3 separate regions of the Homo sapiens genome follow, and regions 1 and 2 are each reported to be linked to region 3. Evidence: microRNA targets listed by miRTarBase, many of them from high-throughput screens and not tested one by one. Region 3 holds a microRNA gene; each other region holds the end of a gene's coding sequence.
The links. Region 3 holds the annotated microRNA hsa-miR-548d-5p (AAAAGUAAUUGUGGUUUUUGCC, at 1,066-1,087, opposite strand). A microRNA usually pairs through its seed, bases 2 to 8, with sites in the 3' UTR of a target mRNA and lowers its output. Matches are read on the target gene's strand: a 7mer-m8 pairs with bases 2 to 8, a 7mer-A1 pairs with bases 2 to 7 and ends in A, and an 8mer does both.

Region 1 (4,052 bases), not on the chromosome of region 3:
CTAAAAGCAACCATTTCTCTATCCTCGAGTAAGCAAGCCACTTCCCTAGATGTCTTTGCTTCTAAGGGAGGTTGCGGCAGAGGCTGGATGGGGGTGCAGTGGGACACCTCAAGGTGGCCTCTGCATTTGAATGCTGCGCTGCTGGCTACTCGCTACTTAGGAGCCCAGCTGCTGGCTGCTCGCTACTTAGGAGTGGCATGACCTTCATTGTGTCCAAGCCCTGGGGACACAGCAGGGAACAGAGAAAGCACCTCCCTCACCCAGCTCACATTCAACTGGGACACACAGGAGAAGTAATAAAACCCCACACCCTTTGCTCAGAGATATGAAGAAAATATTGAGGGCATGATGGGCCCGTGGGCAGGTGGCTATTTCAGGAGTGACATCTGAAGAATCAGGTACCAGCCACAGAAGAGGGTATCAGGTCAAAGGAGCAGAGAGTGCAGTTGAGACTAGAAAGGCAGGAGCTGAAAGAAGACAATGGATGACCCCTCGTAGCCATGGCCCCTCCTTTCTCTGGTCTTCAGGATGAAATGAGACAACAGAGGAAAGGTGCACACACATGCCCAGGAACGGGAAGCTAACATTCTTCTCACTTAAAAAAATGACTTGGAGGCTAGGCACGGTGGCTCACACCTGTAATCCCAGCACTTTGGGAGGCTGAGGCAGGCGGATCACCTGGGGTTGGGAGTTCGAGACCAGCCTGACCAACATGGAGAAACCTCATCTCTACTAAAAATACAAAATTAGCTGGGTGTGGTGGTGGATGCCCGTAACCCCAACTACTCGGGAGGCTGAAGCAGAATTGCTTGAACCCGGGAGGCGGAGGTTGCAGTGAGCCAAGATCGCGCCATTGCACTCCAGCCTGGGCAACAAGAGCAAAACTCTGTCTCAAAAAAAAAAAAGACTTGGGAGGCCAAGGTGGGTGGATCACCTGAGACAAGGAGTTCGAGACCAGCCTGGCCAACATGGCGAAAACCCCATCTCTACTAAAAATACAAAAATTAGCTGGGCATGGGTGGTAGGCACCTGTAATCCCAGCTACTCGGGAGGCTGAGGCAGGAGAATTGCTTCAACCCGGGAGGCTGAGTTTGCAGTGAGCTATCACACCACTGCACTCCAGCCTGGGTGATGGAGACTCTCCCTCCAAAAAAAGAGGAGAGTCCAGGTGCCATGGCTTACACCTGTAATCCCAGCACTTTGGGAGTCTGAGACAGGCAGATCACTTCAAGTCAGGAGTTCAAGCCCAGCCTGGGGAATATGTGAAACCCTCGTCTCTAAAAATACCAAAAAATGAGCCAGGCATGGTGGTGCACATCTGAATCCCCAGCTACTTGGGAGGCTGAGGCACCAGAATTGCTTGAACCCAGGAGGCGGAGGTTGCAGTGAGCTGAGATTGCGCCACTGCACTGCAGCCTGGGTGACGGGGCGAGAATCCGTCTCAAAAAAAACAAAAAATGAGAATAACTTGTAGACAGTCTGTCTTCCTGTGAAGAATGAGAGGCCCACCCTGACAGGGCTCCTGTGCCCTGCTCACCATCTGTCCCCAGTAACTGAAACTGTGCATGGCTAATGACAGGTCCCCTGTAATACTTGAGTAACTGAACGATTGTTGTCCCCATTAGGATGCAAGTTTGATGAAGGCAGGGACCCGACTCCTTGATGGCACCATGGGATCCTCAGTGCCTGGACAGTGCCTGACGCGATGTGTGTTTGCTGATTGGCAGGAATGAACTTATGCCCACGCGGGCCAACCTCCCCTGCCGGCCATGTCATGTCTTGGCCCTTGGCACAGGAAGGGGTTTGTGGAGATCTTTTCTGGGGAGTTACTGGATTGCAGAGAAGGAACACTGCTGCCCAGGAAACCAAACCTCAGCCTTTCAAGCCGGCTTCATTCTACTCATACCCTGTGCACCTCCAGCCAGGCCCAGAGCCATGGACCAGGGCACCTGCGAGGGGCTGGGATCCTTGCTGCCCACGCGAGGCCTGTTAGCTCGGCCTCCCTACGGGCTTCAAGAAGACAACTCCGTCCTCTCCCAACTGTTTGACGAGGACTGGCGTGGGGGGCACCCACTAGGGCCCATTCTCTCCAGTGTGCCCACCACCTGGCTGTGGGGGGTGTTCATGACCTCTCACGGCCCCTTCTGTGTTTGGTCGTGCAAACCTGACACAGCCATCCCGACCAAATGGAAAACTGCAAATTCGAGGACGACCACGGCATTTTTCCAAAACAGTTTAATTAAAAAAAGGTAAAGAAATCTGAAAAAACTGGGGGGGTGGGGGAAGGAACGGGCAAACCCAAAAAAGCATATAGTGTGAGTCTACTGGCTCAGTCACAAAGAAACACCACCATCAAAAAGATATTTAAGTTTAATACAAATTTTATACAAAGAAAATGTGAAAAAATACTTCCATATGCTAAAAGCAATTATGCTTCACAAATAAGGCCAGCTAGGCTATTTTTTTTTTTTGACAACTGCAATTCACAAATGTTCTTTCTCTCCTGTTTTCTTCTAATACTCTCTTATTTCTTCTCTAATATGGGTAACTAGCTGGAAACTGTACAGTTCGCATCCTCTTAACAATGAAGAGAAAGTAAACAAGACTAAAATGTACAACAAAACGTACTGGAATGATATCGTACAATTAATTTTCTCATATACATACATCACCTTTTGCTTTTTCATCAATGCTTTTTGTTTTACACAACATACAAAATGGCTCTACAGCATACGTAGTGTACGGACAGCATGACGGGCCTTGCTTTCTCTCATACTGCCTGTGTTTCATGCTTACATAAAAACGTGAAATTCCATCATATAAATAATACGTACATGCTTCATCCCAGACTCAAACGTCCTCTGCGTGCACCTTGCCTTTGAGTCCTTGCTTCCAAGAAGCACAGCATCTCTGACCAAGTGTGTGTGAGTGTGTTTAAAGGAACCACAAAGCAAAGATAAGGTTTCTCTTTTTTTCAGAGTTCATGATCCTAAGACTTTCTGTGTTCTCTCCTGTGACTGAGCTGAGTGGGGCTTGTTTGTTTCTCTTCTGTAAACAAGGATATTGTTTTTTCCCTTTTAGGAGTAGAGTCATCATTTCAATCACATGAAAGAAACTAGCTTCTCCCTGTGTCCGTCTGGTCCGGAGAGCTTGCGTTTTAGGAACGTGGTAACGTAGTAGCTGAAAGGAGCCAACGGCTTGATGGGATAGTCTGTGCCGAAACTCCCGATCCCAACATGCTGCGTACAGACACACGAGCGAAAACGGTTCGCCCTCCCCTGGGTATCCAAGGATGAGGACGTGAGTATGAAAGTGGTCCCCGGGCCCAGTATCCATTCCGTCGTGTGACAGACAGGCTAACTGACCATCCCTTCTCCAATACCAAAACATTCTTTTTTGTTGTTGGGGTTGGTTGCTTTTTTTTTTTTTTTTAAATCGTTTTTCTTTTTCTTTTTTTTTTTTTAATAAGTTAAAGTTAATACAAATATAAAAAGGGGAAAGTCCTCTAGATTCAATGACATCCACAAATTGTACATTATTTACACCAAAAGCACAGGGCTCGTGTGGGTGAACAGTCTGCAGTCAAAGCCGATGCTGGGTGTCCTGTAGTGTAGCAGCCCCCGCGCCGGGGGCTCAGGCTCAACTGAGGGTTTTGTCATTTTCAAGTCTGAAAGTGGCTGTTCTCCTGCCTTTGTTGTTTCTTCTTTTCCTGGCGTCTGGGTTTTTCTCCCAATGGGGTGGGTGGTTTGTGTCCCGATTCACTGCTAGTCCCAGAAGGTGTCCAGCCGAGACTCTTTCGGGAGGAGGCTCTTCGTGCTGGTACTGGTGTTGTGATCGGAACGTGTCGATCCCCTCTTCTCATCACTGCTGCTCCAACTGGATTTATTACTCCGGGAATGGTCTGAGGGGGAAAACCAATGTGTTTAGCGTGCCTGCCCACCTGCGCCTGAGCACAACTATCCTGCAATCTGACCTGCCCCTCCTGCACAGGAAACCACCTTCCCCTCCCAATTGATGGTTCAAACACTGCCACCGCTGACTGCCCTGCATCT
Region 2 (4,052 bases), not on the chromosome of region 3:
TCCAACAGTGTTTGCATGGTCCTGGGGTCACAGCCAGAGCCACTCTGGGTACCTGCCCCTCCCTGGAATGGGGGTAGGGGCAGAGCCCCTGGCTGAGACCAGCATTCAGCTCCAGCTGTGGAACCCCCAGAAGATTCTGAGGGCCCTGGGTTGACCCTCAATGGTCTTCAGCCACCCTTCTTCCTCTGCCCCAGAGAAGATGGGCGTCCTGGGATCTGAAGGGTCCGAGGTCAAGTTTCAGTCCTGTCCCAGCCTCTGCCAGGGAGCCTGTGCTGGACCAGGATTCCTTTACATTTGGATTTGGAGACCCTCCTGAGAAGCGGACCCTCACCTAGTTCGTTGAAATTCTCATCTCCCCAAAAGTCCGTTTCTCTGGGGGAGAGGAGCAGATGGGGACACCCCGGGAGCAAGCACCTGGCTCTGCCCTGGCACGCCCCGTGACTGACAGATGCAAATGTCCCGCCGGGCCCCCGCAGGCCGCTCCCTCCCTTGCTGGCTCGCCCGCCTCCCGGCCAGCTCCCTCCCTCCTTTATCTTATCAAAGCCCGGTAATTACAATTGCTATTTTGTTTCCTCGAATCTGCAATCAGAGCTCCCTGGCCCAGATGAGGGAGCGCCTGTCAACCTGATCGCTGAGTGACAGCCCGGCCACCTTTCCTGGCCGCCCCCACACTCCGCAAACACAAACACACACACGCACAGACACAAACTCCCTCGCCTGCAAACACAAACACACACTCCTCGCCAACACAAACGGCCCATCTCCGCAGACACGCCCTCGCCTGCACCCAGACACACTACTTCAGCCTATTTCCAAACGCACCCCTCGATCCCAGCCCATCCCCCGGCCCCTCCAATCCACACCCGCCGGAGACCGCAGCTCGCTCCGACGCGCGCTTCCTGCGCCGGGCGTTCAAAGCGCCGCGGACTCACTGCCGACCGTTCAAATGCAAATCGCCGAGACTACGTTAAGCACTTCGGCCACTGTCTGGGAGTCGTCTCCCTCGGCCCCCAAATAGAAGCCTGCCCTTCCTCCAGCAGTCGGCAAACCCCGGCGTATGCCTTCATCCCCCAGGGGTCTGAGGCCACAGTGAGCCGGCAGCGCTCCTACTGTGCGCTGAAGGGCAAAGAAGAGGGCTCGAGGAGAGGCTGGGGCGAGGAGAGAGGAATAAACCTTGCCCAGCTGTGTCCGCGGGGCGCCCCAACCGGCCGAGAAACTCTTGGGCCGAGAGGCTGATGTGGATTGGGCCCCCACTGCGGGCAGGAGCGTGCTCGGCGCAGGCCCGCGCCCACCGGGAGACCTACCCGGAAAACCGGCGAGAAATGCAAGGAGCGATCAGTGGCATCGCGGGGGGTGGGTGGGGTAAATATTGGGGCGGAGCCGCGCAGGGGGTAGATGGGTCAGCTAGGGAGGCCTCCCAGGAGAGAGGACTCAGCCAGTCTCCCGCTCCTCCTGCCAAGCACGTGCCGAGGACTTTGGAGGCTGGGGCCAAGAAGAGGAAGGGAAAGAGGAGTGAGGGCCACAGCCAGACTTCCCCACTCCAACTCAAGTCGTTCGAATGAATGAATGAACGTATGCACGCATGCATGCAAGCCTCAGTGGCATTCCCCCGCCTTCCGCCCAAGATTCGGCCGCCCAGAGCAGTGGCGGGACTCGGAGGCCCCGGCCCCACGGCGCCCGCCCGGAGCCTCTAGAGGCCAGGGAAGCGGTACGACCACGAGCGGCTTCAACCTCGCCCGCCAGAGGGCGCCAGCCCCGACTTCCCTCTCCCTGCCGACCGCGCTCCGCAGCGAGACCCATGGTTCCCAGCCAGGCCGCCCCTCCGCCGGGCTCCCCAGGGAAGCATTTTTAGCAGCGCCCTCCTGGATCGGAGAAAGGCGCCTGCGACCCAGATCACCGCAACACAGACGGGCGTCATCTCCCTTTGTCCTCAACTTGAGGAAGAGGGAGGTTGGAAACTGGACCCCTAGTTCCTCACCACGGGCTGGGGGAGAACCTCCTTCACTAGGGATGCGCTGAAGAGCGTGCGGGTCGGTACTGCGGACGCAAGGTCTTCAAAGCTGACCTCACCTGCCCCAGAACCACCAGCCCGCGATATCCCGGGGCCCCTCCCCCTTGACTAGAGGCTGGGAGTGGGAGTTGGCCTGACCCCCATCAGGCCCTGTTCTCTGTCTATCCTCAGCCTGTCTGGCCCCAGGTTGTCTGGGGAGGCAATGTTTTGTTTGTTTGTTTGTTTGTGGGCATTGACAACCCTCCCCCCACAACCAACACAGCTGCTGAACTGCTGACCCCAGAGCTGGTCACATACACTCATCCTCAAACCAGGTGTGTCAGTTCTTCCTGGCACAAAGGCAGCCAAGTGCCAGAACTACCTGATTCCAGGCACCAAAGACCCCCAGACCCCACGGTGTGTGGGGGACAAGAATCCCTTAGTCCAGGAGGCAAATTCCCTGGGGCCCCTTTCTGCCCCCATATGCCAGGCCACCCGGATTCTGGTTTCCCTGTCACCCAATCTGGCCAGTCCCCTCCATCTGGCCCCCGGAGTCAGGTTTCTCTAAGGGCCCAGCCCTGCTCAGAGACAGCCTGCAAGGCTCAAAGGAGGAGCGAAGCCTGGTCCCGCCCTGCCCTCACAGGCCCTCTCTGGGCCAGAGACCCTCGTGGGGCTAGGGACGCGCATTCCTCAGGCTGCCTAAGCTCGCTTATCTGCCCCCCTGCCCATCAGCCGAGTGCTGACAGAGGCCCAGACCCCTTGTTTGGATGCTGATAACCTCCTGCGATGACCCTCTCCCACCTGCAGAGACTGGGAATGGGCTGAGTGTTGGGAGGTCCCCTTCCAGCAAGGCAACTGGGGCCCAGGCCCCAGGTCCTAGCCCAGGGCCATGAGGGTAGAGGATCCCACAGTTCTCCACCCTCCCCCAGGCCCAGGGCCACGCTGGGTGCTTCCACAGTGCCACCTGGCGGTCCCTAGGGAAACATCACCCAGCACAGGAAGAAGCCACACAAGAGCTGCAAAAACTCCACACCACTTTATTTCAACCTTTATCCAAAAATGTAAAAACTATTAAAAATGTGTAGCTCTGAGCTTCAGGCACTAACCTCCAATTCTCACAGGCAGGTGGGAAGGGAGGCCCCGGGCATGGTGAAAATCAGAAAACCACGGCTGTGTGGAGCACAGGCCCTCTCCTAGCACCAAAGACCCAAGTCCCTCCCACCCAACCCCCACCCAAGCTCTCCTCTTCAAGGAAGAAATATTTACAATTGTTGAAACTTGTCAGGGAACAGGGTGCATGGCGGTGCATGGCACATGGAGCTGACCTGAAAAGAGGAAACAAGGAATCAGCATTTAGGCCCTCACCTGCTTCTCCTGCCCCTTCCCAGAGCCTGCTAGGCACTTCTCCCCGCAACTCACCTAGGAGGGCTAGGGCCTGCCCCCCTGCTTTTTGGCAGGAAGGATGGGGCACAGCTCAACTTCTTCCTCATCACTGTCCTCTTCCTCTTCCTCGCTCTCCTCCTCAGAAACATCATTGCTCATCGTAACTGGTGGACACACAAGCAGTAGAAGGATGGGGTGTTAAGACCAGACCGTTTCACACCGCATGCCATTTCTTCACGCCGTGGTGTTAGGCTTACAGGGACCATGACCTCCCAGTGCTTATGGGCTAGGTGGGAAGAACCTCAGACCCTAAACTGGGTCACAAAGAGCCAAAGGAGTCTTCATTATTGGAGCTGGAGAAGTTGGGCCATGTTCCATGGAGGAGGTAGGCTTGAGTAGACGGAAAGGAGAGGGCATGTCATGCACAGGGCACAGCGTGGAGGGCACACAGACCTGTACAGGGCTGCACTGGGAGATGAGGGTGGGATGGGGCAGGAGTGCGGAGTGGGGGAAGCCTGATGGGAGAGTCCACTGGAAGCAAAGGAGAGGGCCCTCCCCTCTTCTCACCAATCTGGTGCCGCCCAGTGATCCGCACAGGGCCAGAGCCCGACTTCAGGCGGAAGGTTACAGGTGGTTGGAGCTGGAAGTCATCCAGACTGAGCTGGGAGGAAGACAAGGA
Region 3 (4,065 bases):
CCTATAGATGCAGTCATACAGATGTAGTCTCTTGTGTCTCACTTCTTTTGCTCAACACAATGTTTTTGAAATTCATCCATATTCCCCGTCCGGGAGGGAGGTGGGGGGGGTCAGCCCCCCTGCCCGGCCAGCCGCCCCGTCCGGGAGGTGAGGGGCACCTCTGCCCGGCCGCCCCTACTGGGAAGTGAGGAGCCCCTCTGCCCGGCCACCACCCCGTCTGGGAGGTGTACCCAACAGCTCATTGAGAACAGGCCAGGATGACAATGGCGGCTTTGTGGAATAGAAAGGCGGGAAAGGTGGGGAAAAGATTGAGAAATCGGATGGTTGCCGTGTCTGTGTAGAAAGAAGTAGACATGGGAGACTTTTCATTTTGTTCTGCACTAAGAAAAATTCCTCTGCCTTGGGATCCTGTTGATCTGTGACCTTACCCCCAACCCTGTGCTCTCTGAAACATGTGCTGTGTCCACTCAGGGTTAAATGGATTAAGGGCGGTGCAAGATGTGCTTTGTTAAACAGATGCTTGAAGGCAGCATGCTCGTTAAGAGTCATCACCAATCCCTAATCTCAAGTAATCAGGGACACAAACACTGCGGAAGGCCGCAGGGTCCTCTGCCTAGGAAAACCAGAGACCTTTGTTCACTTGTTTATCTGCTGACCTTCCCTCCACTATTGTCCCATGACCCTGCCAAATCCCCCTCTGTGAGAAACACCCAAGAATTATCAATAAAAAAATAAATTAAAAAAAAAATGTAAAAAAAAAAAATGTAAAAAAAAAAAAAAAAGAAATTCATCCATATTATTGGATGTATCAATAGTTTGTTCCTTTTTATTGCATAGTAGCATTCCCCTGAATGGATATACCACAGTCTGTTTATTCATTTACCAGTTGATGGACATTTGGGTTACTTCCAGTTTTGGATGATTTTGAGTAAAGTTGCAATGAACATTCACATACAAGTCCTTGTGTGGACCTACGTCTTCATTTGAGAGATTTTTTTCCTTTTAAACTTTTTATTTTATTAGGTTGGTGCAAAAGAAACTGTGGTTTTTGCCATTACTTTCAATGGCAAAAACCACAATTACTTTTGCACCAACCTAAATCTTCCCTCTCTCTGGATTTGCAATTATTCTGTAAATCTAAAGTTAACTTTAGCTAAATCAGGTTGACATCATATACCCCCTAAAGTTAACTTTAGATTTACAGAAGAGTTGCAAATCCAGAGAACCCCCCGTAGTCTTCATCCACCTTCCCCCAATGTTAATATCGTACTAATTATGATACATTTATCAAAACTCAAAAATTAACATGGGCACAGTTGTATTAACTAAACTCCCGACTTTCTTCAGATTTCACCAGTTTTTTCCACTAATGTCCTTTTTCTGTTCCAGGATTTAATCAGGATATAATGTTGCACTTAATTATTATATCATAATAGTCACTTTCAATCTATGTCAATTTCTCTGTCTCTCCTTGTTTTTTTATGACTTTGACATTTATGAAGTGGGCTGGTCAAGTATTTTGTAGGATGTCCCTCAATCTGGATTTGTCTGATGTTTTCTGATCATTAGACTGCAGTTGGGGTTTGGGGAAAGAATACCCCAGAGGTGAAATGGCCTTCTCATCACATAATATTAGGGGGCACATGATATCTACCTGATTGCTCACTGGTGAAGTTAACCTTGATCACTTGGTTAAGGCGTTGTCTACCAGAGTTACCCACCGTAAGCTGCTAATTTCCCTTTCCATACTCTGTTCCAGGGGTGTCCAATCTTTTGGCTGCCCTGGGACACATTGGAAGAAGAATTGTCTTGGGCAACACATAAAATACATCATTAACACTATGACAGCTGTTGAGCTAAAAAAAAAAAAAAAAAAAAAAAAAAAAAAAAGGACCGGGTGCGGTGGCTCACACCTGTAATCCCAACACTTTGGGAGGCCGAGGCGGGTGGGTCACGAGGTCAGGAGATCGAGACCATCCTGGCTAACACAGTGAAACCCCATCTCTACTAAAAATAGAAAAAATTAGCCGGGCGTGGTGGTGGGCGCCTGTAGTCCCAGCTACTCAGGAGGCTGAGGCAGGAGAATGGTGTGAATCCAGGAGGAGGAGTTTGCAGTAAGCCGAGATTGCACCACTGCACTCCAGCCTGGGTGACAGAGGGAAACTCTGTCTCAAAAGAAAAAAAAAAAAAAAGGTCTGTGCATAAATATCATAATGTTTTAAGAAAGTTTATGAATTTGTGTTGGGCCACATTCAAAGCTGTCCTGGGCCACGGGTTGGACAAGCTTACCGTCTATTCATTAGAAGTGAGTCACTCAGGGGAGGGAGATTAGGCCCTGCCTCCTACAGGGAGGGGTTTCAAAGAATTTGTGGACATATGCTAAAACCAGCACCATAATTAATGTGGTATTTTTTTTTTTTTGACGGAGTCTTGCTCTGTAGCCCAGGCTGGAGTGCAGTGGCCTGATCTCGGCTCACTGCAAGCTCTGCCTCTCAGGTTCATGCCATTCTCCTGCCTCAGCCTCCTGAGTAGCTGGGACTACAGGTGCGCACCACCATGCCCAACTAATTTTTTTGTATTTTTAGTAGAGAAGGGGTTTCACCATGTTAGCCAGGATGGTCGCGATCTCCTGACCTCGTGATCCACCCGCCTTGGCCTCCCAAAATGCTGGGAATACAGGTGTGAGCCACCGTGCCCGGCCAATTAATGTATTTTTATTATTTTAAAAGTTATTCTTATTTTTAGAGATAGAGTCTCACTATGTTGCCCATGCTGGTCTTGAACTCCTGGGCTCAAGCTGTCTACCCACCTCGGCCTCCTAAGTGCTGGGATTATAGGCGTGAGCCACTTTACCTGGCCTGCTTGTTTTTTTGAGACAGAGTCTCGCTCTGTCGCCCAGGCTGGAGTTCAGTGGCACAATCTCGGCTCACTGCAAGCTCCACCTCCTGGGTTCACGCCATTCTCCTGCCTCAGCCTCCCGAGTAGCTGGGACTACAGGCGCCCGCCACTACATCCGGCTAATTTTTTTGTATTTTTTTAGTAGAGACGGGGTTTCACCGACCTCGTGATCTGCACGCCTCAGCCTCCCAAAGTGCTGGGATTACAGGTGTGAGCCACCGCCCCCGGCCCTGGTGTGCTTTTTAATATTTTTTGGAGATGGGGTCTTGTTATGTTTCCCAGGCTGGCCTTGAACTCCTGAGCTCAAGTGATGCTCATGCCTCAGCCTTCAGAGTAGCAGGCATTACAGGTGCATGCCACCTCACCTGGCTAATAAATGTTTTTGGAGGGATGTGTTGAGCCTATGCAGGTATCCTGTTTCCCCTTAAAGTTTGCCCATGAACTTAACATTCCTCAGTGGACCCTGCCTGCAGCTATTATTACTGTAATGTTCTCCTGGTGATTTTCTATTCTCCCATGCCTTCTGCCTTTATTACATGGAATTCTTCTGTAAGGGAAATTTGTTTCTTCTCCAGGTATTTGTTTATCTATCCTCTCATTTATTTATATCAGTGTGGACTCACAAGTACTTATTTTATTCTCTGGGTGAGAGATGTTTTTAAGATGGGAAAATGGACTACTTTAAGTTAACCTAACTGTGAGCCAGGTAGCAGGAGGTGTGGGGAGGAGGAGCATAGATGCTGGGGGAGGAATGGGCGGTGGATGGAGCGAAGTTCCTAGGAAGGTCAGTGAGAAGGAGATCCGGAGGTGGGGGTCTTGGCAAAAACAAGGGACACCCTGTTCCCACAAATGGGTAAGAGGAAAGTTTGGGAGGGTCGATTTCCATGTCAGGAAGGAGAACTTGAAGGAGTTCCAACTAATTAGCTTTTGTCTTCTCCGTCAAGATGTTTTCTGTGACGACAATGGGAAGTTGACTTTTGGAATTTTAATTGTCTTGGCCAAAATTCCTGGCCTCTAGAGTAACGTTTCTCAACCTCAGCCCTGCCGACATTTGGAGCAGATAATTCATTGTTGTGGGAGCCGTCTTGTGCATTGCAGGCTGTGTCGCAGCATCCCTGGCCTCTACCCTCTAGATGCTTTAGTGCCCTCTCCTGTTTCCCCAGCAGT

Region 1: the mRNA of ZMYND8 is a reported target of hsa-miR-548d-5p. Seed matches in the 3' UTR shown: 7mer-m8 at 2,593-2,599.
Region 2: the mRNA of NPM3 is a reported target of hsa-miR-548d-5p. The part of its 3' UTR that is shown has no 7-base or 8-base seed match.

Annotation. Positions count from the first base shown.
Region 1 is chr20:47,206,997-47,211,048 of GRCh38, forward strand. ZMYND8 (zinc finger MYND-type containing 8) reads right to left here. Exons shown (of 23, transcript NM_001281775.3): 23 at 2,218-3,901. The coding sequence ends at 3,765. Among named protein-coding and RNA genes, the nearest start is that of MIR3616, 42 kb to the left of the region's middle. RefSeq lists a silencer at 89-383 and enhancers at 1,200-1,825, 1,826-2,449.
Region 2 is chr10:101,778,318-101,782,369 of GRCh38, forward strand. It overlaps NPM3 (nucleophosmin/nucleoplasmin 3), which reads right to left. Exons shown (of 6, transcript NM_006993.3): 4 at 3,941-4,034; 5 at 3,410-3,537; 6 at 3,008-3,315. The coding sequence ends at 3,419. It also overlaps a transcript of FGF8 not described here. Among named protein-coding and RNA genes, the nearest start is that of NPM3, 3.1 kb to the right of the region's middle. RefSeq lists a promoter at 1-2,989, enhancers at 463-1,360, 1,361-2,258, 1,899-2,028, 2,106-2,956, 2,835-3,129 and a silencer at 1,599-1,678.
Region 3 is chr17:67,470,475-67,474,539 of GRCh38, forward strand. It overlaps MIR548D2 (microRNA 548d-2), which reads right to left and starts at 1,111; the gene lies at 1,015-1,111. All of the region lies in intron 1 of PITPNC1 (phosphatidylinositol transfer protein cytoplasmic 1), which reads left to right. MIR548AA2 (microRNA 548aa-2) reads left to right here and starts at 1,015; the gene lies at 1,015-1,111.